Homo sapiens: one gene and its partners. The protein of the gene in region 3 interacts with the protein of the main gene of each other region in a pairwise test. Each region holds a gene or a part of one and is shown on either strand. Other genes may lie near its edges.

What was found.
Region 1: the proteins of RIN3 (region 3) and MPEG1 interact in a two-hybrid assay, tested with the Homo sapiens proteins (one large-scale study listed by BioGRID and IntAct).
Region 2: the proteins of RIN3 (region 3) and ZNF639 interact in a two-hybrid assay, tested with the Homo sapiens proteins (one large-scale study listed by BioGRID and IntAct).
Region 4: the proteins of RIN3 (region 3) and CSRP3 interact in a two-hybrid assay, tested with the Homo sapiens proteins (one large-scale study listed by BioGRID and IntAct).
Region 5: the proteins of RIN3 (region 3) and CYP46A1 interact in a two-hybrid assay, tested with the Homo sapiens proteins (one large-scale study listed by BioGRID and IntAct).

The regions. Positions count from the first base shown.
Region 1 is NC_000011.10:59,208,497-59,215,709, forward strand, and holds MPEG1 (macrophage-expressed gene 1 protein precursor), read right to left. Parts: upstream 4,432-7,213; 5' UTR 4,370-4,431; coding exon 2,219-4,369; 3' UTR 14-2,218; downstream 1-13.
Region 2 is NC_000003.12:179,326,688-179,333,302, forward strand, and holds part of ZNF639 (zinc finger protein 639), read left to right. Parts: intron 1-277; exon of another isoform or gene 278-657; intron 658-873; 5' UTR 874-944; intron 945-1,595; 5' UTR 1,596-1,606; coding exon 1,607-1,664; intron 1,665-2,930; coding exon 2,931-3,041; intron 3,042-6,301; coding exon 6,302-6,436; intron 6,437-6,581; coding exon 6,582-6,615. UniProt on the Homo sapiens protein: Binds DNA and may function as a transcriptional repressor.
Region 3 is NC_000014.9:92,684,781-92,687,137, reverse strand, and holds part of RIN3 (ras and Rab interactor 3), read right to left. Parts: intron 2,152-2,357; coding exon 1,988-2,151; intron 1-1,987. UniProt on the Homo sapiens protein: Ras effector protein that functions as a guanine nucleotide exchange (GEF) for RAB5B and RAB31, by exchanging bound GDP for free GTP. Required for normal RAB31 function.
Region 4 is NC_000011.10:19,183,787-19,190,401, forward strand, and holds part of CSRP3 (cysteine and glycine-rich protein 3), read right to left. Parts: intron 4,519-6,615; coding exon 4,350-4,518; intron 2,563-4,349; coding exon 2,430-2,562; intron 1,260-2,429; coding exon 1,166-1,259; intron 1-1,165. UniProt on the Homo sapiens protein: Positive regulator of myogenesis. Acts as a cofactor for myogenic bHLH transcription factors such as MYOD1, and probably MYOG and MYF6.
Region 5 is NC_000014.9:99,689,459-99,696,073, reverse strand, and holds part of CYP46A1 (cholesterol 24-hydroxylase), read right to left. Parts: intron 4,994-6,615; coding exon 4,913-4,993; intron 4,295-4,912; coding exon 4,213-4,294; intron 643-4,212; coding exon of another isoform or gene 600-642; intron 1-599. UniProt on the Homo sapiens protein: P450 monooxygenase that plays a major role in cholesterol homeostasis in the brain. Primarily catalyzes the hydroxylation (with S stereochemistry) at C-24 of cholesterol side chain, triggering cholesterol diffusion out of neurons and its further degradation.

The DNA of each region.
Region 1 (7,213 bases), on a different chromosome or scaffold from region 3:
TATTTACAGGCTGTTGTTTCTCAAATAAATGTTTAATATTAATCATTCCCAAACTGACAAGAACACAAAAATAAAATGCAAATACAGAGCCAGCTTTGTCACCCAAATCTGTGTCTATTTCTGATAGTCCATGGAATGTGGTTTTCTTGGAAGCCAGGGTTGGTCTCCCCACAGACCCCAGGCTAAGGTCACCAGTTAGGAACCCAGGACTTGGAAGGCAGAGCCTGTGAGCTCTTCCATCAGGGATCTGACTCCGCAAAACGACTTGATGAATGCAATTGGCAAACTCCCATGTTCGGACTTCATATGCATGAGCCGTTGGACAGAGGGTTTCTTAGTATATACTTTAATGCATGTTTATGTGCAATCTTGTTAGTGGGTATACAAGTTTGTGAAGAACTTCTCATTTCAATAGGCAGTTAATGTAATGCATTAAAAGCCTGGGAATTTGGGGCTATATTTTTCCTTTCTGACTCAATAATCTTCAAAGAATTCATAGGAAAGTCAGTACTTGCAGACAAGTGGTTAGCTTGGCTAAAATGTACAAAACACCCAGAACCCACAAAACACTCAGAGGTTTAGGAGAATGTTTTAATGCTTAAGAGGCAGGATCAAGTGAAGAGGTTACAGAAATCAGTGTCTCTGGCTGGGCAGTCAAGAGAGCGGGCTCAAATTCTGTGACTCACTTCTCTGTGTCTCGGTTGGAAATGAATGGGTATCCTGGTTCCCACCTTCCCACACACTGTGATACTTCAAACTCCTTGGGTGAAGGGCCTCTTCTCAGCCCAAGATCTTGATTGTGAACATTAACAAAGAGAACAGTCATCCTCCACAGAAGATAACTCATTAATGACATTTGATTCAGTGAATAAATATATCATTTAAAAAAATATTGTAGGGGGATCATGAAAGTAGTGGAGGTAATTACAATCAGGAGAGATTGGTATTAAAATTGAGCAAAGTCCCAACTCTCACCAGATGACAATTATGCATCCTGCTAGATGCCCCAGGGCTGTCAGCCTGGAACTGAAATAAATGTGTTATAAGTGGTGCTGGATGCCTTTTTCAGTTCATTTGAAAACATGGATTTGATCATGTCAGCTCCCTTTCTGCTGGAAAAAAAAGTAGTTTGCATAATTGGTGTTAACTACTCTGTTTTGATTCTACAGAGTAAGTAATACTCAAATGTGGTCTTACTTTAACTTCTTGCCTTTGTTACCCCCAGAACCATGCAGACATTGAAATGTGGTGTGCGTGTGTGTGTGTGTGTGTGTGTGTGTGTGTGTTCATATAACAGGAGGACAGGAAAGGTAAGGACCCAGAACAATGAAGACTTATTGAAATGTGGTATGTGTGTGCGTGTGTGTGTGTGTGTGTGTGTGTGTGTGTGTGTGTGTTCATATAACAGGAGGACAGGAAAGGTAATGACCATCCATGGAAGATGAAGGGGTAGTACTTAGCACCAGAATCTTTTCCAGTTTTTACCCATCTTTCATTACTCCTTGTCTCCAAATCATCCCTTCCTTAATAACTTAAAATAACTTAAAATATTTTCTGAGGACTTGATGACACCAGTCAGAAGTCCAAGAGTGGTCTGGTATAAGGGAGTGTTCATCAAGGGGCAGCTGGAAAAAGTGGAATTGGCACAGGCAACATCTTTCTTTTCAGATGTTTGAGGTCACCCAGAGGAGATAACAGTCTGTCAACATAGAGCCCTCAAAGTTAAAAAGCAGTAGCCAGGCAAGACTTGTGTCTTTTCAGGGCTCTTCCAGGCTCTAAGAGTGTGAAATTCAGACAGGTTTTTAAAAATCAAAATAAAAGGAGAGTAGTTCTTACAGGCAGAAACTCTTAGAGCTCACAAATTGGAAACAACTGCAAACTTCAGAGTAAATTCATAGCTTCCAAATACAAATGTTCACATTGTCCCTCCGCTATTTTTACACAAATGCATTCAGGTGAAGACAGCAACACACATTGGGAAAGGACATCTGCTTCCTATTTTAGTCCCAGAATCACTTTTGCTTCTAGTCCCAACTGTTCCCTCTCCCCAATCCCAACCTTATCCATGTAACAGTATGAATTTCCTGGCCCAGAGACCTAAACAAGAAGTCACGAATATACCTACTTTTGGTTGCACTTGCCATTTCAATGCTTAGGAAAACAGAGTGGTCAGCAATGACCACACTGGAGATGAGAGAAACCATTTTCGGGGAGAGATTTAAGCTGGACTCTGCCCCTGCTCTTGGTAAGTGGTGTCTCCAGTTGCTGCAGTGCCTGGAACCAAACTCTGCCTTTCCTCAATTGCCTGATATGCTTTCTTCTTGAACTTCCGGGTGCCGTAGATGGCCAAGGTGATAACAACAGCCAGAATGGTGGTGACCCCCACTGTGACCCCAGCTGCAGCCCCTCCTGACAGACCACCACCATCCCCATGGATGACATTCATGGCCCTCCGCAGCTCTATCGGTTCTCCCAGCCTCCACTGGTGGGTCTGGGAGTCTTTAATCCAGGATCTCGCATTCTCAGAATTGGTCACTATGACAGTATTGGTGGCAGCCTGACTCATGAGGGGTGGCCGGGTGAAAGGTGGGAGCCTGGCAGGGGGCAGGGACCCTCCTGTGAAGAGCCCGGATTTGACGCAATAGGACACTTGGCATCCATCGCTGATGAGGGCTGGGTGCTGGCTGAAGCCCCCGGGGCACTTTTTCAGAGACGGTGCCCCTAAATCTCTGGATATAGCAGGATCTACCAGGGGGTTCCCAACTGTGCAGCTAAAGAACCCGCCAAAGGGGACCGCAAACCTGCTTCCCAACTCATAGTCCTGAGAAACACATACCTTGAGGTTTTCAAAGAGTCTCAGTGGAAAGTAGCCGGCTGGGCATGACTGTGCATTTGTCATGGGGTTTATGCTCTTGCTGCTGAAGAGGCCCCCAAAAAGCAGTCCTGAGTTTTCAGGTACTTGGCTGCTGGCCACACACCAAAAAGCCCTAAATTCAGCTTTTGCCACCTGGAACACATCTTCACACACGGTCTTGCAGAAGACGAGGAGAGTGCACTTTCGATGACACTCCAGGTGGTTGTAACCCTCCTCGTGGATCTGGGATAACAGGTGCACCGGGGAGTAGCCAGAGGGGCAGGAGAAATCACCAGTGAGTGGATTCTTCTGCTCCAACTTTTGGCAGAGGAGGACATCCCTATTCCCTGAGAGCTGAGTGCATTCCTGATAAACCCCACCGAAAGAGAAGTTGGTCATTTTCCCCTCGCAGGAGCCATCATCCGTGTTGGCCTGAAAATTGAAGTTGGGAGAATTGAGATCTGTGCAGCCAGGGTAGGTGTTGAATGTATAATAGCGCTTCACAGCAGTTTCCACTGTCTTTGACACCTTCTTCACCAGGGGGCCTGGCAAGTCAGGTAGCATGTTGGGGTTGATGAAGAAATGCAGCGGCAGGCCAGAGCGGTCGATGGCCACCAGGTGGTTGGTGATACCCTGCTGCCAGGCCTGGAGGGTGATGCCTGGGTAAAAAGGAACCCCTCCAATGCTCTGCACCCTGGAGTTGGTTCGGTTTGAGAGGTAGCTCTTGGTGAGGACATTCTGCGAGGTATAGTTTTCCTCAAATTTGAAGTTCACGGTGTTTTGAAAGGCAAGTCCAGCAGAGGCGGTCACGGCACTACGACTGCTCTGGCTGTCTTGGAGGAAGGAGGCCCTGAGGTGGTCCTCCTGAATAAGAGCAGCCCCAGCGTCGACACTGGTGGTGACGTGGGTGCCATAGTTGAGCACCAGGAGTTCTGCCAGGTAGGTGGCCATCCTCGTCTGGTTGTTCTCTAGACGGTCAGAGATGTCAAGGAGTTCCTTCCTAAAACCTGAGCTTAGCTCTAAAGTTGGGTTGATTTTGACTGTGTAGACGAGGTTTCTTACCTGAACTCGGGTAGTTATAGCTTGGTCCTTCACTTGGAGGGTCTTCATCCTCTGGAACTCAGTGGAAAACTTGCCATTGACTTTGGAAAAAAGAGAGAGTTCTGTGTTGATGGAGTAGGAGGTGCTACTCTGGTAATTTGCCCAGGATTCCAGGATTTCTGAGTTCATCTCCAGGTTGCTCTGTTTCTGGGGAATGGTGAAGATTTCATCAGGGATGATATACTGTCCATCCTCTGTTGTCCTGCAGTTGGAGTAAGTCAATTCCATAACTCGTCCCATGTCCACATTCCGCAGATTGTCCCAGCCCCCTCCAGGTAGGACTTCCAGGACAGGTAGTTTCAAGGCATTCTTGCATTTTTGAACTCCAACTTCGTCCATCTCTCCCGAAGGCTTGCCTGATTTAGCCCATGCTGCCGCTGCCCAGAAGAGGATGGTGGCCCTGAAGTTGTTCATGGCTCAGACAGCCCCAGCCACTCACCAGCCCTACACAGCGGCCAGCAAGCTTTGGGCAAACTAAGATGGAGAAAACAGAAGCAGATGATGAAGCGGAAAACTCATGAGTTCTCTAAAAGCTACAAGTTCCTCTTTAAGCTAATTTAATGACAAAATGGGGAAACGAGAGTTGGTTGGAATATTAAAGACCATCAGGTCTTTGAAGAATTTATGCCGTACTAAACATGCAAACACACCCCTACATGCCTAACAGGTAGCTATCCTAATTTTTCCCCCAGCTCTGGCTGGTTACTCTGCTGCAGGGGTGTGCACTTAGAAAAAAATCCCGACCCCACACCCTACTGCTTCCTCCACCAGAAAGTTTGGCTTTGCTTTTTGCTCATTCTCTTGGACTTGATGTTTCATATTTTCCCTGACTGCTGTCTCTTGGGACTCCATTATCAGTTTTCTTTTACTATAAATGCAGAGGCAAATGACCACACCACCCTTACTGAAACACCCTGGCTCCACCATACCTATGCAAGCTGTTAGTCAAGGCCAACCCTGGGTTTCCTCTTTGCCTGAGGGTGGAGGCTGTTTCCACAAAAGAAAGGAGTGAAACTCTTGGACACTTGTCCTGTGGGTTTCACTGTTATGAACCATAGCAATTCTGTCTTTGGGGATGGCATTGTCTGGAGCACAGCTGACAGGGCCTGAAGAGGATTCGGTTGCAATATGCTGGGAAACCCCAATTTGCATTGTCCTAAGCATTCAAAGCGAGGGCAAGGAACTCCTACACTGTGTTGTTTTCATTCAGATAGAAATGTTCAAGACAAAACCACACTATTATCTAGATTTTGATTTATCAACAGCAGACAGGGGCCAAGGAACATATGTGTATGTGTACACACATTTATATATCCTCTGTGTGTGTGCATTTTGTATGAAGTTGGTACCTGTTATACCTTTAATTTTTTGTTCCATTGCTAAGTGTGTGTAATCAGTTTAGGTGGATAAAAAAGAATGTGGCTCTTCACTACCCAATATTTTTTCTAAAAGCAAAAATTCATTTGCTATATCATTAGAAGAATATAATTACATGAGTTTCTTTTCAAGTTCCAATGCCAGCTCTATTAGAGCCCATAATTTAAAACAATGGTGACAGGTTTGATTGAAACCCAACTCTGTTAATTCTTTGGGACAATTAGGCTATGTCTTAGTATGCTTAGTGGTAGCCAGGGAATCCAGAGGACTTAGTGAAGCTCCCAGTTGCATCCTTAACATTCCCAAGATTATACCATGAACTAGATACAGTACTGAGACTGAAAAAGTCATGTTGCAATTCACAGGTATCACTACACCATCACCTGTATGCATCCTGGAAGGAAGGTTCCAAGGAGTTGAATTCCTCTGTTGGTTATTAATGCAGCAAAGAAGTGTTTTTAGAAAGAATGAGGCTAGTTATCTTGCTTCCCAGGCTGGGCTTCACCAGTTATTATCAAAACCATGATGGTGTTCTATAAATCTAGAAATACTGCATTCCGGGTATATTTTTTTTTCCAAGACAGGGTCTTGCTTATTGCCCAGGCTTGAGTGCAGTAGCTATTCACAGGCATGGTCCCACTACTAATCAGCATAGGAGTTTTGACCTGCTCCATTTCCAACCTGGACCCGTTTAGCCCTCCTTAGGCAACCTGGTGATTTGCTCCAAGGAGGCCACCATATTGATGCTGAGCTTAGTGCAGACACCCAACTGGCATAGCACACTACAGCCCAGAACTCATGGATTCAAGCAATCCTCCCACATCAGCTTCCCAGGAATCTGGGACTGCAGTCATGCACCACCACACCTGGCCATTCTGGTTCTATTTGTGCCACAGTTATCATGCTTCTGGGAAGTGACACCAGCCACCTAAGAGGGATTAATTTATGAACCAGTGCCTAGTCTGTATTTGGCTAAAGAACCAAATCTTTGCACAGGATGTTCTAGTTAATTTATAAATCAGTTAGCCATAAATTTATACCTCAGCAGCATGATCCCAGAATTAGAAAAATGAGAGTTGAATGCCCTTGAGTACTTCCAATAAGTCTGTTGAAATACCTACATACTTCTCTTCAAACTATTTCTGGGATGGTTCATCAAAATTAGAATACTCTCACACTGCTTTGGAGACAAGCTGACAATTTGTTACCCTCTGCTTTCTCTTTAGTAGACCCTGTTGAGAGCTCACTCTCCTGAAATGAGAATACAAGCAAGGTTAATACAGACAATTCTATATTCAGGTGTTCCTATGTCTCCAGACGTCTAGTCACTGTATTTTTTATTCTATAGACTTTGTCTTCATTTTATCATAGGAAAAAAAAATTGAAAATAGCAGAAAGAGCCAACAACGGTAAAATTACATTGTACCCATAAGACAAAATATTGTATAGCCATCACAATTATTTAAAACTATTTTAATAACATGAGAAATTCTTATGCCATAATGTTACTGGAAAGGGTTCCCAATGCAGACCTCAAGAGAGAGTTCTTGGACTTTGTGCAAGAAGGACCAGGGCAAGTCCACAGAGTAAGGTGAAAGTAAGTTTATTAGAGAAGTAAAGAAACAAAAGAATGGCTACTCCATAGGCAGAGCAGAAGTATGTGCTGCTTGATTAAGGATACTTATCATTATTTCTTAATTATATGCTAAACAAGGGGTGGATTAATCATGAGTTTTCTGGGAAAGAGGTGGGCAATTCCCAGAACTAAGGGTTCCTCTCCTTTTTAGACTATACAGGGTAACTTCTGGAAATTGGCAGTCATGGCACTGGTGGAAACATCTTTTAGCATGCGAATGCACTACAATTAGTGTATAATGAACA
Region 2 (6,615 bases), on a different chromosome or scaffold from region 3:
GATGTCAGCTCACTGTAGCCCTCCGCCTCCCAGGTTCAAGCCATTCTCCTGCCTCAGCCTCTTGAGTAACTGGGATTGCAGGTGCGCACCATCACACCCGGCTGATTTTTGTATTTTTAGCAGAGACGGGATTTCACCATATTGGCCAGGCTGGTCTCGATCTTTTATTTCTTAAATAAATAATCTATAAGGGCTGTAACAGTTTAAAGTTTATAATTTGGGCCAGGCAAGGTGACTCACGCCTGTAATCCCAGCACTTTGGGAGGCCCAGGTGGGTGGATCACCTGAGGTCAGGAGTTTGAGACCAGCCTGGCCAACATGGTGAAACCCCGTCTCTGCTAAAAATAGAAAAATTAGCCCGGTGTGGTGCCACATGCCTGTAATCCCAGCTACTTGGGAGGCTGAGGCAGGAGAATCGCTTTAACCCAGGAGGCAGAGGTTGCAGTGAGCTGAGATCGCGCCATTGCACTCCAGCCTGGGTAACAAGAGCAAAACTCGGTCTCAAAAACAAAAAGTTTATAATTTGGTTTGCTTTCATTATGCTTGCTTTCCTTATGGATGAATAAATTAATTCAGATTCATAGTCCTATTTTGGTGTCAAAAGATTTAACTATAGGTCAGGCATGAGACTGTCTCAAAAAAAAAGAACTATAGAAGGTAAATCATTTCAAAGAAATGTGGAAATTTGCATATAATCACATATTTATCAAGATATACAGTTTTTAGTATGTAGTACATTGTTTTCAAAATAATATATCTTAATTAGTTCTGTATAACTTTCCAATTGATTAAAGATCTGGTGCCATTGTATTATTCAGTACCAGAAATGAGCTGTATTTTTGCTTAATAACTTCTTTCATGTTTTACTTACAGGCATTTTTTACTGTCTACAGAAACTTATTGTAATTCATTTTTCCTCACTCCAGTAGTAAGAATTATACCAAGTAAGTGGACTGTATTGAAACTAATTAATTTTGTAACAGTTAATGAGAATTTAATTGGATAGTGGTTGCTGCATGTGTTGTGTTCTCAGTGGAACGTTGAATGTGACCTCATAAATAGGAAAATGATTTTTTTCTTGAAAATTATTTATATTCTGATCTGTGTGATGAGTACTTTTTTCTGGAAGCCAGGAGGCCGATACATATTTGTGACAATATTTTTTTAAAGGAAATGTCTCCGCCTTTAGCTTGAAAACTACCTAAAAATACTTCCAATGGTAGGAAATGTGCCTATAAAACTCCTAGTATGGTGCCATAGGCACAGTGTTTCTTTTTTTATATATACACAAAATAAAATGACTTAAACATGTGGTTTATTGTAATTATCCAGTTCTCACAATTTATATCAACATTTGAAAAAGAATTTTTTAACCTCCGTAAGAAAGAAAACAGAAATCAGTTTCTGCCTTGAAACCTGACTGGAAAACAATCTGAAATACAAACAGAGGCATCATTTAACACTTTTCTTATACCATAGATTTTCAGGTGGCTCACATATTTCATATTGCCAATAAATTCTTCAGTTAGAATTTTTATAACGTCATTAACAGTTGTTATTTGTGACATATTTGTTAATTTTTTCTCGTTTTTTAGATTGAAAAGATATGAATGAGTATCCTAAAAAAAGAAAAAGGAAGACTCTACACCCTTCTCGTTATTCAGGTCAGTGTATAATTATTTTAAAGTTGGGTATGGATTAATTCCCACAAAATTATATTCTCATCCATTTTCTCCTAAGTGATCAGATAAGACTTAAATATCTGGGTCAATATTTAGGTAAAACAACGGTTTAAATACATTATCTGAATATATATTCCTTATTGTCTACCATGTGCTAGGCACACATAAGAACTTTACAGACATTATATTATTCCTCACAGCTCTATGGGTTATAAATATTTAAAATTAGATAGCCAAGGTTATTTACTTATATAACATAATTGGGATTTGCATGTCTGATACCTAAGCTGTGCTTAAGACCCAATAATGACAACCTTGGTAGAAAATATTTTACATTATTGGGGAAAAAAGACTTTATCCTCTTTATTACTTTAGGAAATGTAAACTTTCATGCTGAATGTGTAATTTTTTTTTTTTTTTTTTTGAGACAGAGTCTCACTCTCTAGCCCAGGCTGGAGTGCCATGGTGTGATGTCAGCTCACTGCAACCTCTGCTTTCTGGGTTCAAGTGATTCTCCTGCCTCAGCCTCCCAAGTAGCTGGGATTACAGGCGTGTACCGCCACACCTGGCTAATTTTTTGTAGTGTTAAAGTAGAGATGGGGTTTCACCATGCTGCCCAGGCTGGATGACTGTGTAATTTTAGATCCTTTCATTGAGGTTGGCTCTGCTGTGTTGGCAGTATAAGAAAAGGGGTCTTTGTGGCCATCTCTAATACACCTCGCATACATTTACTTGGGACCATCTCAGTCTTACCTATTAGTCTACCCAGCCTACACATTCTTCATATCTGAAGAAATTAACCCTAGTATACTGCTTACTGGCCCTTCCTAGACAACACTTGAAATGACTATATTCAGAAGCCCTAAGTGGTCCTTACCATTTCCCCTATGTAACAACCTTTCTCTGCATGACATGGCACACCTTCCTGGTGTTTATTTCACTGTTTTGTGCAGTTAATACAGTGTTTATCATATATTTTTATTTTGTGTGATTCTGAGTATAAAACAAATGTATCCTTGTATATTTCAAAGTTGTTATGTTTTAGAGTATGTAATTTGTGGTTCTTTCAAAGTCCTATGTCAATATTGGATCTGAAATATAAAAGCTTTAAAAGTTGAAAATGTATAATATTTTCATTACAGATACTATAATTAACATTAAGAACATTTGTATAAGTTAGATAACGGGAAGTTTCTCATTAAATATGTATGTTTACTGTACTTGAAATATTTTTCATTTTATGTTCAGATTCCTCTGGAATAAGCAGAATTGCAGATGGATTCAATGGAATTTTCTCTGATCATTGTTACAGTGTCTGTTCTATGAGACAGCCAGATTTAAAATATTTTGACAACAAAGGTATATCTAATATTTTCGAAAATATGTTTCTTTAAACTGCTTTTACATTTTTTATTCCTTACTTGAAAATGTGGGTAAAATGTGGATTGATGATTTCAAAACAGACAAGTCTTTGAAATTTGTTACAATGTAAGAAAACAAAGTTGTATTTTTTTAAGAAAGCAAGTAATTTTAACTATTCTTTTTTTTTTTTTTTTTTTTTGAGATGGAGTCTCGCTTTGTCGCCCAGGCTGGAGTGCAGCAGCGCGATCTTGGCTCACTGCAACCTCCGCCTCCCAGGTTCAAGCAATTCTCCTGCCTTAGCTTCCTGAGTAGCTGGGGTTACAGGTGTGCGCCACCACGCTCAACTAATTTTTGTACTTTTAGTAGAGACAGGGTTTCACCATGTTGGTCAGGCTGGTCTCAAATTCCTGACCTCATGATCCGCCCACCTTGGCCTCCAAAAGTGCTGGGATTACAGGCTTGAGCCACCGTGCCCGGCTGTAATTTTAACTTTTAACATTATTTCTGACATATAAATAAAAAAGTGCACTCTCCTAAGTCCATTTTTTGAAGGGGGTGGGGTTAGGGGGAGACAGTCTTCATTCTGTCACCCATGCAGCCATGTCTCACTCCATGGATTATGGCTGACTGCATTCTTGACCTCTTGAGCTAAAGCAATCCTCCCACTCAGCCTTTTGAGTAGCTGGGACTACAGGCATGCACCACGATGCCTGGCTAATTTTTAAAAATTTTTTTGTAAAGACAGGGTCTTGCTGTGTTGCCCAGGCTGGTCTTGAACTCCTGGCCTCAAGCAGTCCTCCCATGTTGGCCTCACAGAGTGCTGAGATTGCAGGTGTGAGCCACGGCTCTCAGCCCTAAATCCACTTTAGTTGGTTAGGAATTGGTGGCAATGCAGGAGTGACTCAGAGTTGGAGTATTTATGTTGAAAGGTTAAGAATAGTGTTAGACACAGTTCTACTCAGCTATACCACATAGTGTGGAAGAAAAGAACAGAGGGTGATTTGGTATTTTTCAATGTTGGATCTTCTATTGGTTCCTCTGTTCTACAGCATTGGTGAATGATAACAATTTACAACTTGCACTTAAGTTAGAGAGTTAGAGACATCGGTATGAATTCCTGTTTAGCTTACTATAGATTCAGATGGCTACATACAGAATGCTTGTAGATATGTGTGTGTATATATATGTGGTACTGTACACACACACTTTGCTGTGTTAGCTGAGAGGGGCTAAAAGAAATGACACCCAGAAGCAGTGAGCATGAGCACATTCAGTGCCCAGCTCTTGGTTTCTAATGCCTCCTTGGGAAAATGGCTGATTCTAGGTCTGGGGCAGGAAATATACAAGATGAACCTGGAGCATTTTGTAGTGCTGGAAAATAGGAAAGTACTTAAAAAAACCTAAACACACGCACTTGACAGGGGTATGCCAAAGGGGCACACGTCAACTTAAAGAGCTCCCAACAGCCAAAACTGAAAACTATTTGGGGACAAAAAATTATAACCCAGAGTATAAAATAAATATCCATGAATTCATGCTGTTATAAATTATTAAATAGAGGAGATGAGGCAAATCTGTGCAGAAAAATTCCAAATTATTAGACTTCATCTTAGCCAAAAGGCCAAGAAGCAGTAAAACTCCAAATTATTTATGTAGCTACTCCTCCCTCTAGGAGGTGGAATATAAGTCTGCACTCCTTAAGCATGGTCTGCACATAGTGACTTCTTACAAAAGGTAAAGTATGGAAAGTAAAAGCACAACTTTAGGCCAGGTGCGGTGGCTCACGCCTGTAATCCCAGCACTTTGGGAGGCTGAGGCAGGCAGATCACCTGAGGTCAGGAGTTTGAGACCAGCCTCAACATGGAGAGACCCTGTCTCTACTAAAAATACAAAATTAGCTGGGCGTGGTGGTGCGTGCCTGTAATCCCAGCTACTCGGGAGGCTGAGGCAGGAGAATTGCTTGAACCTGGGAGGCGGAGGTTGTGGTGAGCCGAGATCGCGCCATTGCACTGCAGCCTGGGCAACAAGAGCGAAACTCCATCTCAAAAAAAAAAAAAAAAAAAAAGACAACTTTATAGTGTTGAAACCTGATAGAGACTTAGCCAGGTGATCAAGATCAACATCAACAACCATAAATCATATTGATAGTATGTACCCTTGATAAGAAGTGATGAAAATGGCAATTTACCTCTGGTCTATCTCCCAGTAATCCATAATTCCAGCGTAATCATTTTAAAAAAAAGAAAGCAGACAAATTCCATTAGCAAGGCATCCTACAGAATACCTGATTAGTACTCCTCAAGGAGTGAGAAACTGCCACAGCCAACAATAGCATAGAGAGACATGGCACCTTAATGGAATGTGGTATCCTGGAACAGAAAAGGGACATTAGGTTAAAAACTAAGGGCATTTAGATGACTTTATTGACTTTTATTAATAAGTTACCAGTATTGGTCATTAATTGTAACAAATGTGCCACACTAATGTTAGATGTTAGTAGTGGAGAAACTGGGATACATGGGACCTCTCCATACTATCCTCTCAGATTTTTCTGTAATTCTAAAACTATTCTAAAAAATAAGGTCTATTTTAAGAAAACATGATGGATGGGCTGAGTGTGGTGGCTCACGCCTGTAATCCCAGGTCTTTGGGAGGCCAAGGTGGGAGGATCGCTTGAGGCCAGGAGTTCAAGGCCAGCCTGGACAACATAGCAAGACCCCATCTCAAAAAACAAGAATTACCCGGGCTTGGTGGTGCATGTCTGTAGTCCTATCTACTCAGGAGGCTGAGGCTGAAGGATCACTTGAGCCCAGGAGTTTGAGGCTGCAGTGAGTGAGCCATGATCATGCCAGTGTACTCCAGCCTTGGCAGACTGAGCAAAACTTGGTCCCTCGCAAAATGTTGAAGCCCAGTTTTCACTATTAACCTGTATTTCAGTTTCCCCATGCTAACTTTGAAACACTGGGGCTGGCCTGAGGGTATAAAGGCTTATTCAAACTCAGTAATTTAAACTTAAAATCCTAAGGAACTTCAAAAAGTGTAATCTAGTCCAAATGGGGCATCAATTCTAAAGCATTTGCTTGTTTGAGCAGATTTTCTGTGTCTGAGGTATATAGATAACTTATCTTTTTATGACTAAATCCAAGTCCTTAGTTCCTGTTGGAATTCAAAATCATATTTAAAAATTGATGCTTTGTTCTATAATTAATGCTTTGATTGTATAAATAATAAGTATTCTTCCAAATCCCTTTTTACAGATGATGATTCTGATACCGAGACGTCAAATGACTTGCCAAAATTTGCAGATGGAATCAAGGCCAGAAACAGAAATCAGAACTACCTGGTTCCCAGTCCTGTACTTAGAATTCTAGACCACACTGCCTTTTCTACAGGTTGGGGGAACTAATTTATAGCATTGATATATTTTGTATTGGTGAATTTTAAAAAAAGTGCATGCAATAAATTTTTTTTTGCCCAGTTGTATTTAACAGATCTTATTTAGTTATAGTCATATAATAGGTTTGTTTTATTCTTCAGAAAAATCTGCTGATATTGTAATTTGTGATGAAGA
Region 3 (2,357 bases):
GGCCCGGAGCGGCCTCGCCTTCCCCGGGGCTCAGGGCTGCAGGCAGAGAGGCTGCGCGCGGGGCTGCCCCCTTGTGGCCGGATTGGGAACAGCAGGCCTGCGCGGGAAGCGGCTGAGGATCCCGGCTCGGCGGAGACCGTGATGGCAACTGGTGGCTAGGGCTTAGGCGAGGCCGGGCTCCTGTCAAGAGCTTCACGGGGACCGCCCATTTCTTCCAGGAGGGGAAAAGCCCGGCCCACTCCCTCCGTCTTAGTGGCTGCCTCAGGGCTCCTTGTCCTCCATTAGGCCTCCCAGGGCACTATCCACCTGCTAGTGACTGTCCAGCTCTGGGCTTCCCCTCCCCAGGGAAGGGTGCCCACCCCCCAAGGCATGGTGTGCGGAGGAGGCACTGGGAGGGGGCAGAGGGTGGTGCCCTCCCCAGATCCCAGATGTGGTGCTGAGGGGACCCCCCTCCGAAGCTTCCGTCTCCCAAACAGTGGGTGGTCCGTTTCATCCATACTCTGCCTGGCTCAGCATCAGGAACCCCTAAGGTAGAAGCAGGAAGTACGGGATGCCTGGGCCAGGCTTGGACCAAGAGTGTCCATGTCCCTACAGTCTGTGGGAGTCCGGGGTGTTGGGAGGGGATGGGAACAGAGGTGTGCTGGAGCTGGCTCACACCCGCCAGGGAGAGCCGACTGCATACACTTCTTTCCAACTCCACATTCAGTGATGCCAAGTTGAAGTTGGCCATGGAGGACTCACACCATGGAAATGGACAGAAGCTAAAATCAGAGCTTTTGTTTTCTCCCCAGAGAGTCAGTTATTAAATTGATTAGCCATAGTCAGCCTGTGTGGGCAGGAAAACTGAGTCCCAGAGTGGGGCAGGGATTGCTGAGGGTCACACAGCAAGCTAGTACAGGGCTGGGGCCAGAACTCAAGCCTCCTGTCTCCCAGGCCTGGGCTCTGCTTATTATAGATGCACCATCTTGAAAGCCAGGAGTGTGGCTCAGGACTGGTCTGCTCTGGGTGTCAGAGGAGTGAGTCTGCATAGCTGCTCACAGCTCTGGATGTGCCTGGCTCACTAGTCCAACTCTCACCCTTTTTTACACACCCAGTCCTGCTCTGTCCCAGGCCCTGGGCTTGGCGCCCCTGAGGCATGTGAACCATGGGCTGTGCCCTCCCAGAGGTGACAGCTTCATATGCAGAGGATGATAGGATGTGATATGCACTGTAAAAGGGGAGGCCGCAGGAAGCCCAGAGGAGGGCACCCCACCCAGCCTGTGTGAAACGGTGTGTGTGTGTATCAGGGAAGGCTTCTCAGAGGAGGGGCTGTTGGAGAAACTGAGTCGTCTTAAAGGATGGGCAGTGACAGCCAGTGAAGAAGGGGAGATTGACCAGTGAGGGCAGCGGTTGAGCAGCCAGTGAACTGGGCTGGGCATGTTTGGGGAACTGGGGGCAGCTGGATTTGATGCAGCCTGGGGGTGGGTGGGGTGATGGAGTTGGGGAGGGGCGGGACTGGTTTGAATACTGAGTCTGTATAGAGAGAGGTATGGGGAGGGGTGGGCCACTGGGTTGGTGGGGGTTACGCAGACCCTTGGCAGCTGCTGCATTTGTCCAGGGACTAAGGAGCAAGGCTGTAGATGAGCCTGTGGGCTCCTTAAAGCAGGGACTGGGATGACAAGTCCCCATCTCCAGCCCCTGCAGGGTGCTGGGTCCTAGGAGGGGCTAAGGAATGATGGGTGTGTCTCATTCCTCCTGCACCCTTCCTGCTTGCCCAGGGAGAACACCAATGCCTGCTGATATGTTTCTAGACGCACCCAAGTCCTGGACACACACTGGCAGCAGGGGCTGGGGGCCCTTCCTCTGGTGTGGGGAGTCTCACTGCTCCCCTAAGGCAGGGCTGGGCGGCTGGAGCAGCCAGGTGATGTCACGGCTCCTTAGCCAGCAGGCAGCAGGGATGGTGTCTGGGACATGGCCCCACCGGGCCCCTCCCGCTCTCAGGCCTCACCTGTACGGAGGAGCGGGAGGCCCGGGCCTTGTTGAGAGTACGCCGGCGCTCCCAGCGGTGGATGGAGTCCTGCACCTCCACACTCAGCTGCCGGGTCACCGTGATCTTGTCGTAGCTCTTGATGTGCTCCAGGGCCCCGTAGGTGGTGGTCAGATAGTAGGAACCTGCGTGGACAAGGGTGTGGAATCTGAGCCAGGACCGCCTCCGCCCACCAGAGGCAAGGAGCTTGGCCTGCCCCACCCACCTCCTCCAAGCCCCGCCCACCACCTCTGCTTGAGGCACATCTGCAAACACCTGCTTCAACAGCTGAGCTCAACCCCACGCCCACCCTCCAGCCTCAGAAAGTTTCCTAGAGTCCAGCCCTGAGCTG
Region 4 (6,615 bases), on a different chromosome or scaffold from region 3:
TTTGGCTGTATCCCCACCTAAATCTCATCTTGATTAGCTCACATAATCCCCACATGTTGTGGGAGGGACCCAGCGGGAGATAATTGAATCACTGGGCGTGCTGTTCTCGTGATAGTAAGCCTCACGAGATCTGATGGTTTTATAAAGGGCAGTTCTCCTGCACTTGCTCTCTTGCTTGCTGCTATGTAAGGTGTGACTTTGCTCCTCCTTTGACTTCTGCCATGATTGCGAGGCCTCCCCAGCCATGTGGAACTGTGAGTCCATTAAACCTCTTTTTCTTTATAAATTACCCAGTCTTGAGTATGTCTTTATTAGCAGCATGAGAACAGACTAATACAGCAAAGTACAGTTATGACTTATAAAGTCTTCTCTCTTAACTCCCTTTCCATTGCTCCTCTCACTTCATTCCAACATACTCCTTTGGAGATTCTTGAGACACCATCATTAAGTGATGAAACTCCACTGAGCAACAGAATAGGCCTAGGCTCAGGGGTGGAGGACGCATTGCCTTGGCCCTAGTGCATTCCTTCCTTTGATAGTGTCAAGAAGGAGCTAAGCCTCTACTATTTCTCCACAAGACCAAGGGATTATGGAGGCAGCGAGGGTCAGAGCTGCAAGGACCAGGAGGAAAACCAGATCTGTCCCTATGATCACTAAGTAACGTGCAACATCGACAACAGAACTGTTAGTGCGGGGTAGGCAGGAGGGAGATAGACATGTCATGATAAACTCCAGTGAGGCCAAACTGAGTTCACCCTCCTCCAGTCACCCCCTCTGCCACTCAGGTGAACAGATGGTGTTTCGATTTTTGGAAGGGGGTGTGGTGTTAGTTGTCCTGGCCTGAGGCCTCTTCCAAGACCAGAGGCAGGGCACTGTTTCCTCCTCTTCCCTTCCTCTCTCCCCCAGGTGCCTAACTTCCCGAACCACTGAGCATCTGAAAGCATCTGGTCTCTGCCAGGTGCTCCAGTGGAGAGGACCAGAGCTGGGTCAGGTGGGAGATTCCCTCCCCTTAGGTGGTTTTGCTCCTGAGAACCCAACGCTGCCCAGGCTGAGCAGCCATACCTCCTGGAAGACACGGGAAGACCTCCAGGCATGAACGTAATTTCCTCTCCCAAGGGCCCTTTTAGGGAAAACATATTTCAAGAAAGTCTCCAGAATCACTCACCTTTGCAATAAAGTTCCCCATCTTTGTCAGTGACATTTGTGGACTCCAGACTCTTCCCACAGATGGCACAGCGGAAACAGGTCTTGTGCCAAGGCTGAGGGGCACAGAAAAGTTGCATATTTAATGAGGTAGGCAACACATTCTGTTTCCATTTCAAGTCCCTGACCAGCAGCATCCAGAGGAGTGACACGTCTTAACCATTTGCTTACCTAATGGGCCCCATAATTTCTCCAGGGGTTTGGAGAAAATGAGATGCTATGGCCTTAGCCAGCACTTCTCAGAAGCCTGAAAATGGATTTGTCATGGTGATTTGCATATGTTTTCCTTCAGAATAGACTAAACGGGAAAGGGCTTCCCCAGGCCAAAAAGATCCAAGGAACAAACTGGTCAGAGAAGGACTTGGGCTGGGGGCACTGGGTGATGTTTATGTTGAGTATAAAGTTACAGAAGGAAAAAAAATAAAGAAATCAGGCAATTGTTCAGGGAATTCAACCTTGTTTTAACTCTCTGGTTTAATTCCTCTGTGTAATTCTGAGGCAGAGTTGCATAATTTCGATGTTCTAGATCTCCATCCTCCTGCACATCTGCGTGTCTACCAGGTACAGCCCAGGGCTTCTCCTATGTCTTCAAATGGCCAGTTTTAGGGTGGAGCCTGCCCTTGTGTTTGAAGTTAGATGCTCCCCACGGCCCTTCCTCCCACCATGTGGTATAAACATAATTTTTCTCTTTCCTCAGGTCTGACTCCTTTGGTGAGTACCCAGGCTTTGGGCCTGAAACTGGAACTTGCAGAGCACATATGCATGAGTGTCTCGGACATCTGATGACTTTCCTGAGAGCCAGGAAGTTCGTAAGTGAGGATGCTTCTCACTACTGTGAGGCGTCTGCTATATCCATTGGTCATGGTGGCAGCAACAGGTTGAGTTAGGCAGTGGTTGGTCTGGGGCTGACATCTTTTGGGGGGATTGTGGACACTGGAGGGTAGACGGGCTTTTGCTTTGTATCCCAGAACTTTCAGCTGGGTGCCTTCCATCTAGTAGAATAATGCTTGCTGCTTCAAACTGCACCAGTTCCAGCTTTCAAAGGGCAATGCTAGATGACAGACAGCCCCAGCCTGGGAAAGTGGCTGAGGATGTGTGGTTTCTAAAGTTGTTCTGGGAGCTAGAGAGAATGACAGCTGCTTGCAGCTCCCAATTTTTCTCTCATTCCTCCCAAATGGCCTGGTGGAGATGAGCAAATTCTGTCTGGCTCATACAGAAGGTCTTACCTTGCCACCTCCCATAACCTTCTCAGCAGCATAGACTGACTTGCCACATCGAGGGCACTTCTCGGACTCTCCAAACTTCGCAGTGAATTTGGAAGGGTTGCTGGTGGTAACTGAGCGTGCCGGCTTTGGGGACCTGTTGGAAATAGACGAATGAATGAAACGTAGATTTCCCTTGGCAAAGAGTAGAAGAGCTGTGTGGCCTTGAGAAAGTGACCTCACTTCCGTGTGTCTCAGACTCCTCATCTGGAAAATGGGGATAATGATGGTGTCTTTCTCATAGCGTTGTTGAGAGGGTTAAATGAGGCGACATTTGTAAAGCACTTAGAACAGTGCCCGCCTGGCATGTAGTAAGGGCTAATAAATGTTTGCTAAAATGGGTTTAGAGCTTTCCTTTTTGTTGTGAAGCACTTAGCAAATGTTCTAGTTATGTTAGCTTGTGTTATTGTTGTTGTTGTGTTGTTATTACTACTGTGCTTATTTGTGTTTTTCTGGACCATTTGCAAGGCCACTTCTTTCCTTTCTAAAGAGAGTTGTGAAAATTACAGAGCAAGGTGGGATTTTGACAATGGGTGCTAATCAGTTCCTGATGAACCACAGTCCATGAGCTGATGCATTCCTTATCACAAGCCAGGCTGTCGTCCTGCCTCCAAGGGTCACCTGTCCCAGGAGAACAATGTCCAAAATAGAGACATAATAATAGCCTCTCATGTGTTGGTATCTTTTGGTGTTTGCTTGTATATTATATCACTTGAGCTGTACCACAACCCTATAAGGTAGGCAGGGCTGGTTGGAGGAGAGTGAGGATCAGAGTGTGACTGCCCAAGGCCAGGCAGCTCATGAATGATGGACCTAGGAGGAAATCCTAGGTCTTCAGACCTTGTTACTCTTTGTGCAGCATCACTAGGAAGCCCTAATGTTGAAAAGTGAACTTCAGTCAATGTGAGGCAGAGAATGCAGTGGTATGTTTTCTTCCTTAACAAGAGTCTCCATTTGAGATTGAGTAATAAGACAAACTAACAAAAAGAAGTCTTCTCTCTAAGATGACTAATCACACATCTCTCCACGTTTCCATGCTCTCCTGTGGCTTACTCTCTTTTGAAGGGATCAGCTGATTCCTCAGATGGCTGAAGTGCTCTCTGGGGGAGGCCCTCCATGGGACACTTCCTTGGTTGGGCTGGGCCTTTCTGGCCAGTCGCAGTGCAGAGCTCAGCCTGGAGGCCAGCTGGCCAGAGAGTAGTGTCAGGCCAGTGGCCATCAGACTTTCCTCAATTCTGGGCTGGAGGTCAATGTGGTTATCAAGAAAGTGGACCCAGGGGACCAGACTGGTGGATGGAGGTGGCCAGAGTGATGTCCCAGCTTCCCTAGGATAATGTGGCGGGAACTCTAGCACTGTATTGGCAACAGGCAGCCAGGGAACCCCCAGAAAAATCATGATTGATTGTTTACTCTGAGGCACAGCCCATCCTTGCAGACACACTCCCCCTGCCATGTGGACGTTTGTCATCTTACAATCCAAGGGAAGAAATCTTTTCATGACAGGCACACAAAGAATGGCCATTGCTGCCCTGCCATATTTGTGTGATTTACACAGAAACTCTCAACGGGGAAGAAAGGAGACTCCATGCAGTTTTGCAAAGGTCAAACAATGGAACATCTGTACATCCTGGGTTTTCTCTTGACATGCAAACCAAGAGCCATGGTGTAAAAGTAATTGCCCTTTAGAATGGCAAATAATTTAAAGAGAGTCTTTGGAGAGATGACACATTGTTCAAACTTGGTCAGACTGAGTATTCCTATTGTTGGCAAGTCAACAATAGAGTCCATTCTCCCACTTCCAGAAAACGTTGCTATGGGAACGAAATGAACTGTCCTGATAATTGGAGACTTTAACAGGCAAGGGGGAGCAGGGCAGTAACTCACTGTTGGAACTGCAGGCCGAGATGCTCGCCCGTGTCTGTGCTGAGACAGCCAGCGCCTTGTCCATACCCGATCCCTTTGGGGCCATATCTGCGCCCATAGCACACCTTGCAGTAGATCTCCGACTCATGAGCCGCGACTGTCGTGCTGTCAAGAGCCTTCCTGCAGGCCACTGCCAGGAAAAGGAAGGGTCATGGGATTGGAATTGAAATCCTTCTCCCCTTCTTTGCACTCCCAATGCCATGCTCGGGGCCAGAGACCCAGCATGAGGGGCCCCTGAGCCAAGAATACAATGTTGATTCCTGACCAGAGTATCTGCCCTGAGTTGTGCACTCCAAGACAGTCCCGATCTCACAGATGACAAAATTGGGTTCAGTGGTTCCCAGCTGGAAAAGGGTGGAAGCTAGCATTAGAACGAGATATATAGTCTCAGACCTGCTAAGGACTGCATCCCTGAGTCTTCCCAAATGACATCAGGGAAGTGTGTGTGTGTGTGTGTGTGTGTGTGTGTGTGTGTGTTTGTGGGCGCGCGCGTTGGCAGGGGGTGGGTTAAGGCAGGAGAGAAACTTACTTTTTTCTTAATCATAAAAGAATCAGGATTGAGCACTTTCTGTACTTACCACAGCCTTTGAAGGACACTGTGATATTCAAGCAGACAATTGCCATTGAGGCTAATTTTGGTCAAATTCTGGAAGCAGAGGAGGTGGGGAAGGGGGTAGACCTGCCTTATTAACTCCTTAGGCTTCTATTGGCTCAAGCCCCCTGGTTACTGTATATTACCTAATGTAAAGTATCCTCCAGTATAAGGCAATCAAGCCCTCATTTTTCCAAAGAGAGGATTTATAGAAAGATTTATTTTGCAAATTTAAAAGGAAACTTTTAAAGATATAAATAAAAATGTCAAATATCTACTTATAATTTTAATTTAGTAATATAAATCAACAATATATTGATTTGGAAAGGTTACTTTTTTCTAATCCCACATAAATTTGGGGAATAATTATCTCCAATTCTGTCTTTGCATCTTCAACATCGGCATCTCCCTCACCACCAGAATCATTTCTGGGGGCAGCTGGCCCAGCTTTTCTGAGCAGCTCACTTTCACTTCTATCTGTACGTTTAAAGAGGCAGCCCTGTTTTATACCTGAGTAGGAGGTTGTCACCTAGAAATTGCATCTCAACAAGAAGGACCTATTAGCATAGCATTAGGGCAGATTTTTTAAAAGATATAGAATTTCCACCATGTAATGACTTGCTACATTGCTTTGCAACAATGATTCTTAAAGGTTGTTTATAGTGATGCTCAGTGCTTATAATAGGGAGATAATATCCCCAGGAATAATAATATGTGTGCATTAAATGTATTTGCCTTTTAAAAAAACATTTCCATCAAATGATCCCTATAAGCAATCCAGCATTGAATGAGGTTATTTCAGGCTAATATGCCTTCTTCAAATGATATTATCTTTTTTAAAAGATAAAGTAATTGAATATGGGAGTGGAGGAAGAAGATAAGGTTGTAGATGAGGTAGGATTAGCCAGGGGCTGATGAGTGTGGGGCAAGGGAGTTTATTCTGGGACTTTATTTGACTATTCTGTCAACATTGTATGTGTTAAAAAATATCTGTACCAAAAAAAAGTTTAAATCAGTAAATAAAATAATTGGAAGAATGTCTTACAGCAGGAGAGACTTTATAAGGCTTTAAACACAAGGCATATCTTTTTTATGAAGATGAATTTGGGGGGAGAATGCCTTATATTGAGACATAGAAGGTGTGTACACTTGTCTCTACCCTTCTTGTTACTGTCAGTTACCAACCTCCACAACAACTGCTTGCATATTTGCTGATGGTCTAGACTCTGAGTTCCTTGAGGGCAAGCCTGTTTTGTCTTAATATTCCGAGAATTTAGCACAAGGCCTGGGCCAGAATTAGTCCTCTGTAAACATTTATTGAGTACATGAATGAATGAATGAATGAATGTGTCAATGTAAATCAGTGAGTTGTTCACAATTATACAATAGTAAGTTGCAGAGCCACGGCTTACCTCAGCTCTTTTGACTCCTAGTCCAGTGCTCATTCCCATCACTCCAAGACTGCCTATACCCTAAGGTGCCCTGGCCAATTCTGTAGCCACTCCCTGGCTTCTGATGAGCTTTTGTGAACAGACAAAGGAGAACTGTGCTGTCCAGTGCTGTGGCCACAGCCACATGCTGTGCTGTAAGCACAAAATGCACATCAGATTTCAAACACTCAGTACAAACGCAAAA
Region 5 (6,615 bases), 7.0 Mb from region 3:
TCAGACTGTATAAAACAGCAAGAATCAACTGTGTGCTATCTATAAGAAACCCATTTTAAATATAAAAATGCAGATAGGTTAAAAGTAATATAACAGAAAAAAGATATAACATGCAACACTAAGCATAAGAAAGCTGGAATGGAGGCTGGGCATGGTGGCTCACGCCTGTAATCCCAGCACTTTGAAAGGCTGAGGTGGGCAGATCACTTGAGGTCAGGAGCTCAAGACTAGACTGGCCAACATGGTGAAACTCCATCTCTACTAAAAATACAAAAATTAGCTGGGTATGGTGGCAGGCACCTGTAGTCCCAGCTACTTGGGAGGCTGAGGCAGGAGAATCACTTGAACCCTGGAGGTGGAGGTTGCAGTGAGCCGAGATAGCGCCATTGCACTCTAGCTTGGGCAACAAGAGCGAAACTGCTTCTCAAAATAATAATAATAATAATAATAATAATAATAATAATAATAAAGCTGGAATGGCTTAAAGTAGACAAAATATACTTGGAGTAAAGAATGTTATTAAGAATAAAGATGAACATTTCTAAGGATAAAAGAGTCAATTCATCATAAAGACAAATCCATCCTAAATGTGTACACACCTGATAACAGAACTTCAAAATGCAGGAAGCCAAACTAATGGAACTGAAAGTAGAAATAGATAAATCTATGATTATGAAGGGTTCAACATTCCTTGCCCTGCAACCACTAGAACAAGTAGACAGAAAATTAGAAAGGATTTAAAAGATTTGAATAACACTATTGACCAAATTGACCTAATCGACATTTCTAAAACACTTTATTCAACAATAACACAACATACACTCTTTTTAAGGGTTCATTAACATTCACTTTGATGAACCATATGCTGGGCCATAAAACAAATTTCAATTAATTTAAAAGGACTGAAATCATGATGATGAGTATTCTCTCTGACTTTACAGAATTAAATTAGAAATCAATAACAGAAAGATATCTAGAATATCCCCTAATATTTAAAAATTGAATAACATACATCCAAATAATCCATGGTTCAAAGAATAAATCACAAGGGAAGTTAGAAAATATTTTGAACCAAATGAAAATAAAACATATCAAAATTTGTGGTAAATTTGTCCTAAAGCAGTGCTTAGAAGGAAATGTATAGCTCTAAATGCTTACATTAGAACAGAAAAAATGTCTAAAATCAATTGTTTAAACTCCATCCTAAAAATCAGAACAAGAACAAATTAAACCCAAAGTGAATACAGAAAGGAAATAAGAAAGAGGAGAAATTGGCTGGGGGTGGTGGCTCACGCCTGCAATCCCAGCATTTTGGGAGGCTGAGGCAGGCAAATCACTTGAGGCCAGGAGTTCGAGATCAGCCTGGCCAACATGGTGAAACCCTGTCTCTACCAAAAAAATAAAAATTTAGCCACGTGCAGTGGTGGGCGCCTGTAATCCCAGCTAGTCGGGAGACTGAGGCAGGAGAATCACTTGAACCTGGGAGGCAGAGGTTGCAGTAAGCTGAGATCACGCCACTGCACTCCAGCCTAGGTGACAGAGCAAGACTTCATCTCAAAAAGAAAAAAAAAAAAAGAGGAGAAATCAATGAAATAGAAGACAAACAATGAAGGAAACCAATAAAACTAAAAGCTACTTATTTGGAAAGATGAATAAAATTGATAAACCTTTTGGTGAACTGATCAAGAAAAAAAAAAAAAAAGAAAACCCAAATTACTACTCTCAGGAATGAGAGAGGGAACATATCACAGATCCTACAGACATTAAAAAAAAAAAAAGAAAGAAAATCTCATGAACAACTTTATGCCAATAATTTAAGCAAATTATGTGAAGTGAACAGATCTCTTGAAATATGTGAATTATCAAACTCAAGAAAACAGAAAATCTGAATGCCATATGTCAACTAGAGAAGGAAATGCTGAAACATGCTACAAGATTAATTCACTTTGGAAACATTATGCTAAGTGAAATAAGTCAGATGCGAAAGGACAAATGCCATATGATTACACATGTATGACGCACATAAAGTAGTCCAATTCACGGAGACAGAAGGTAGAATAGTGGTTTCCAGGGTCTGGGGGGAGGGGAATGGGGAGTTATTGTTTAACTGATACACAGTTTCAGTTAGGGAAGATGAAAAAGTTCTGGAGATGGATGGTGGTGATGGATGTACAACAATGTGAATGTCTTTAATGCTGCTGAACTCTACACCTAAAAATGGTAAATTTTATGTTATGTGCATTTTATCATAATTTAAAATTTAAAACATACAATGTAAACAAAATTAAATTTGTAACTTAAAAAAAATAAAAATTTCCCTCAAATAAAACTCCAGGCCCACATGACTTCACTGGTGAATTATATCAAATATTAAAAGAAGAAATAACATCACTCCCATACAAACTTTTACAGAAGATAGAGGAGGAAGTTACCACTTCCCAACTTATCCTATGAGGTCAGTATTAACCTGATGTCAAAACCAGTCAAAGACATTACAAGAATCAAATAAATATGGAAACAAAAACTCTTAACAAAATATTAGCAAATTGAATCTAACAATAATTAAAAGATAATATATCATGACCAGGAATGCAAGATTGGTTTAACATTTGAATATCAATCAATCAGTATAATTCACTATATCAATATATATCTTTAAACTTCTTTTCTCATTAAGCATCACGAAAGTCTTTGTGCATGGTTTTTGGTAGCATGCTTTTACAAGTCTTAAATTGTGTCTATGTTTGAAATTAAACTTTTAATGAAAAATTATTTTTAACATTCTGCTAGAGATTCCTGGTTATTCATTCAACCTGTCTCCTTGTCTTGACTGTAAGTTGTATTTTATCCCTCTCAGAGTCACCACAGCCACCCTCCATTGCAGAGAATTGCCCCACACATCTGCTGCGCACCCATGGTAAGAAAAAAAATGCATCATTGTTTATTGAGCAATTGCTGTGTGCCAGGCAGGGGCTAGATGGCTCATTTATATTATTTTAGTTCTATTCTTACAACCACCCTGTAACAGAGGCACCAACTCTATTTCACAGATGAGGAAATGGAGGCCCAGAATGAAGCAACTTGTCCAAGGTCCCACAGCCAGTTGGTGGCAGAGCCCGGAGTTGAGCCCAGTTCTGCCAACTCCACAGCAGATACCCATTCTTGGAACCTTCATGGCAGACAGGACAGACAATGCCACCTGCCTTGGTTCCCTCATTTCACTTCTTTTTTTTTTTCTTTTTTGGAGATGGAGTCTCACTCTGTCACCCAGGCTGGAGTGCTGTGGCACGATCTCAGCTCACTGCAACTTCTGCCTCCCGGGTTCAAGCGATTCTCCTGCCTCAGCCCCCCAGGTAGCTGGGATTACAGGCGCCCACCACCACACCCAGCTAATTTTTGTATTTTTAGTAGAGATAGGGTTTCACCATGTTGGCCAGGCTGGTCGCGAACTCCTGACCTCAGGTGATCCACCAGCCTCAGCCTCCCAAAGTGATGGGATTACAGGCATGAGCCACTGTGCCTGGCCCTTTTTTTGAGATGGAGTTTCACTCTTGTCACCCAGGCTGGAGTGCCATGGCACGATCTCTGCTCACTGCAACCTCCACCTCCCAGGTTCAAGTGATTCTCCTGCCTCAGCCTCCCGAGTAGCTGGTATTACAGGTGCCTGCCACCATGCCCAGCTAATTTTTGTATTTTTAGTAGAGATGAGGTTTCACCATGTTGGCCAAGGGACTAATAAGAGTCCCTACTCCTATGAGGATTAAATGCGTCACTAATTGTGAAGTGCATAGAAAAGTACATAGTAAGCACTCTTTAAGGATGTTTTGACATATTATTTGTTAAATAAACTGATCAATTTTTAATTCTTATCATAGCCCTGGAGATAGAGTTATAATTCCCATCTCACAGATGAAGGAACTGAGGCAAAGAGAGGCAAACTAAACGTGTGTGCACTAGTTGGGCAAAACTTCCAACCCAAATGGGGACAGCAAGGTCCCCATCTACTCCCCACATCAAAAGGCAATGCTTGCAAGAGTCCCCAAGGAGTGGGTGCTTAGAGGGAAAGATGCCATTCCTTTCTGGATCTTTGGGAAACCAGCCGAAATGCGCCTGGCTCTGGAACATTCATCCAAAGTCTCTGGGACCAGGCTTCACTCCCCCAACCCAAGGAAAGGCAGGGAACTCCCTCATGGAAACCACTCTTCCTCCTACCTTAACCGACTCAGGACTCGTGACGATGACTGAGGTTTTGTGGAAGACGTTGACCCGCACAACAGGTCCATACTTCTTAGCCCTGGAAACCAAAGTGACCCGAAGGAAACTGTCAACCACCTGAGGTATGACCATCACCAACCCCGCCCAGCTGAGAAACCGATGTTTCCCGTCCCAGAAGGTGCTCAATGCATGCTACCAAAAGAGTGCTGTCCTGGGGCCCAGGAGCCCTGGGGGCAAGGCTCTGCCCTGTTGCTCACTTGCCGAGTCATGTCCCCCAGCAGGCCTCAGTTTCCACAGCCATGGAATAGGGTTGGAAACACTCCTTCTTTGATTGTCCCAAAAGGTTGTCCTGGGAATCAAATGATTCGCATCTTTGAAAGTACTTTGAAAAATGTAAAAAAGTGACACACCAAACAATGACTGTTACCTGGTCACACCCCCCCACCCAGTTTACAGATGAGGAAACTGAGGCTCAGAGAGCTTCTGACGGCTGGTCTAAGGTCCTGCAGTGGATGAATGGCAGAGCATGGCTTCCAAGCCAGCCTCACCTGCCTCCACTCAGGGGAGGAACTGCTGGGGCTGGGAGTAACCTGGGCTAGGGGAAGGTGAGGCTGGGAGTCTGTGTGCTGGATTGGGTTGGGGGAGCTGCCCCAAGGGAACCTGGAGTAAGGGCAACAAGTGACAAATGAGAACCCACCAATCCAAAAACACATCTTGGAGCACACGGCCACCAACCTCATCCTTTTTCCAAAAGCAGGGGAGGTGTCCTAGAAGGAAACTAGAAGAAACAGGAAACATTAGGCTTACCAGCAGTCAACAGGAAAGAACGCTCCCTTCCCCACAAGATCTTATTACTAGGCCCACTTCACAGACAGGAGGACCGAGGCATGGGGAGGTTACAGCACTGGCTCAGGGACACCAGGCAGTAAGAATGAAGACAGGATGCAAACCCAGGTCTGACCAGCTCCAAAGACCCCCTTGGAGAAGAAACAGTTTTTTTTCCTGTCTCCCTGGCACAGAAGTTGGGGGCTGGCAGATAGAAAGGACTCAATAATATTGTGTGGGATCACCCTCAGATATTCCCCAATACTGACCAGGCTGGGCACCACCACGCTAGGCTTCACCCCTCCAACCTCCCCACATGGCTGATCAGTCTGTTATTAACCGTATTATATAGGACAGCCGAGATGAAAGGGTGAAGTCATTTGCCCACAATTGCACAGCTGGTACCAGGGCTCCCCAAAGCCCATCTCAGCAAGGGATGGTTTGGTCATATAAATCTGCTGTGTTCACCAAATTGTAAAGAAGCCAGTGCAGTGTCATCCTGAAGCTCATTCCAAGGGGCCCATGACTTCCTGTCTCCTGTATGACTTTATTCCTACCAAGCTCAATGCAGCATCCCCAATGGGTGACAACAAAATCACGTTCTCCCAGGGAAAGGCGGAGAGTAAATAAACAAGTAAAGACAATGTCAGAGGGTGATAGGAGAAAAAGAGAACAGAGTACGGGGAAGAGGAAGGGCTGGGGATGAGTGTGTGGGTGTCCGTTTAAAACCCATTTATGCCTAGTGTTCCATTATTGGAACGCTAAGCTTGTGGAAGTTATTTATGTCCTACTGCTCAAGGTCAACACCAAGGTCTGATTTTTCAAATTCAAAAAATTGCAACCTCAGGCATAAATGGGTTAATGCAGGCAGGGCACGCAGTGTCCCTCTAAGAGGGTGGCTTGTGAGATGAGACCTGCAAGAAGCGGGGGAAGAGCCTTCCAAGCAATGGGAACAGCAGGTGCCAAGGTCCTGAGGTCAGAGTGTGCTTGGACAGTGAGGAAGCCAGTGTGGCTCGGGCAGAGTACTTGAGGGAAACAGAGTACAAGGTGGGTCACCAAGACTGGGGGCAGGTCATGTAGAGCCTTGTGGGCTGTGGTCCAGATTTTTGCTTTGACTTTGGTGAGCTGGGGTCCACTAGAGGGTTTTGAGCAGAGCAGAGATGGGATCTGACTTGGGTTTGAATGGATTGTTTTGCAGCAGTGCAGAGAGTAACCAGGGTAGGGGAGGAAGCAGGGACACTAGTGACAGGGAAGGACTGGGAGAGGTGACGAGGGCTCAGAACAGAGCAGGGCAGCGGAGGCAATGATAAGAAGAGGTCAGATTCTGAATGCTCTGTGAGGCGGAATACTGGAACGTGCCGTTTGGCTATGGGGGTGTGAGGATGACTCTGTGTTTTTGGCCTGGGCTGCTGGAAGAATGGATGGAGCGACCATCTACCAAGATGAGGAGGAGCTGGTTGGGGTGGCAGAGCCACCGTGCCCACCCCCTGCAATTTGCCAGGGCCGTCTCTGGCTCTGCCCACAGGAGATGAACCCACTTTGAGCAGCCCTCCACCAATGACCTCAGCCCCTCCA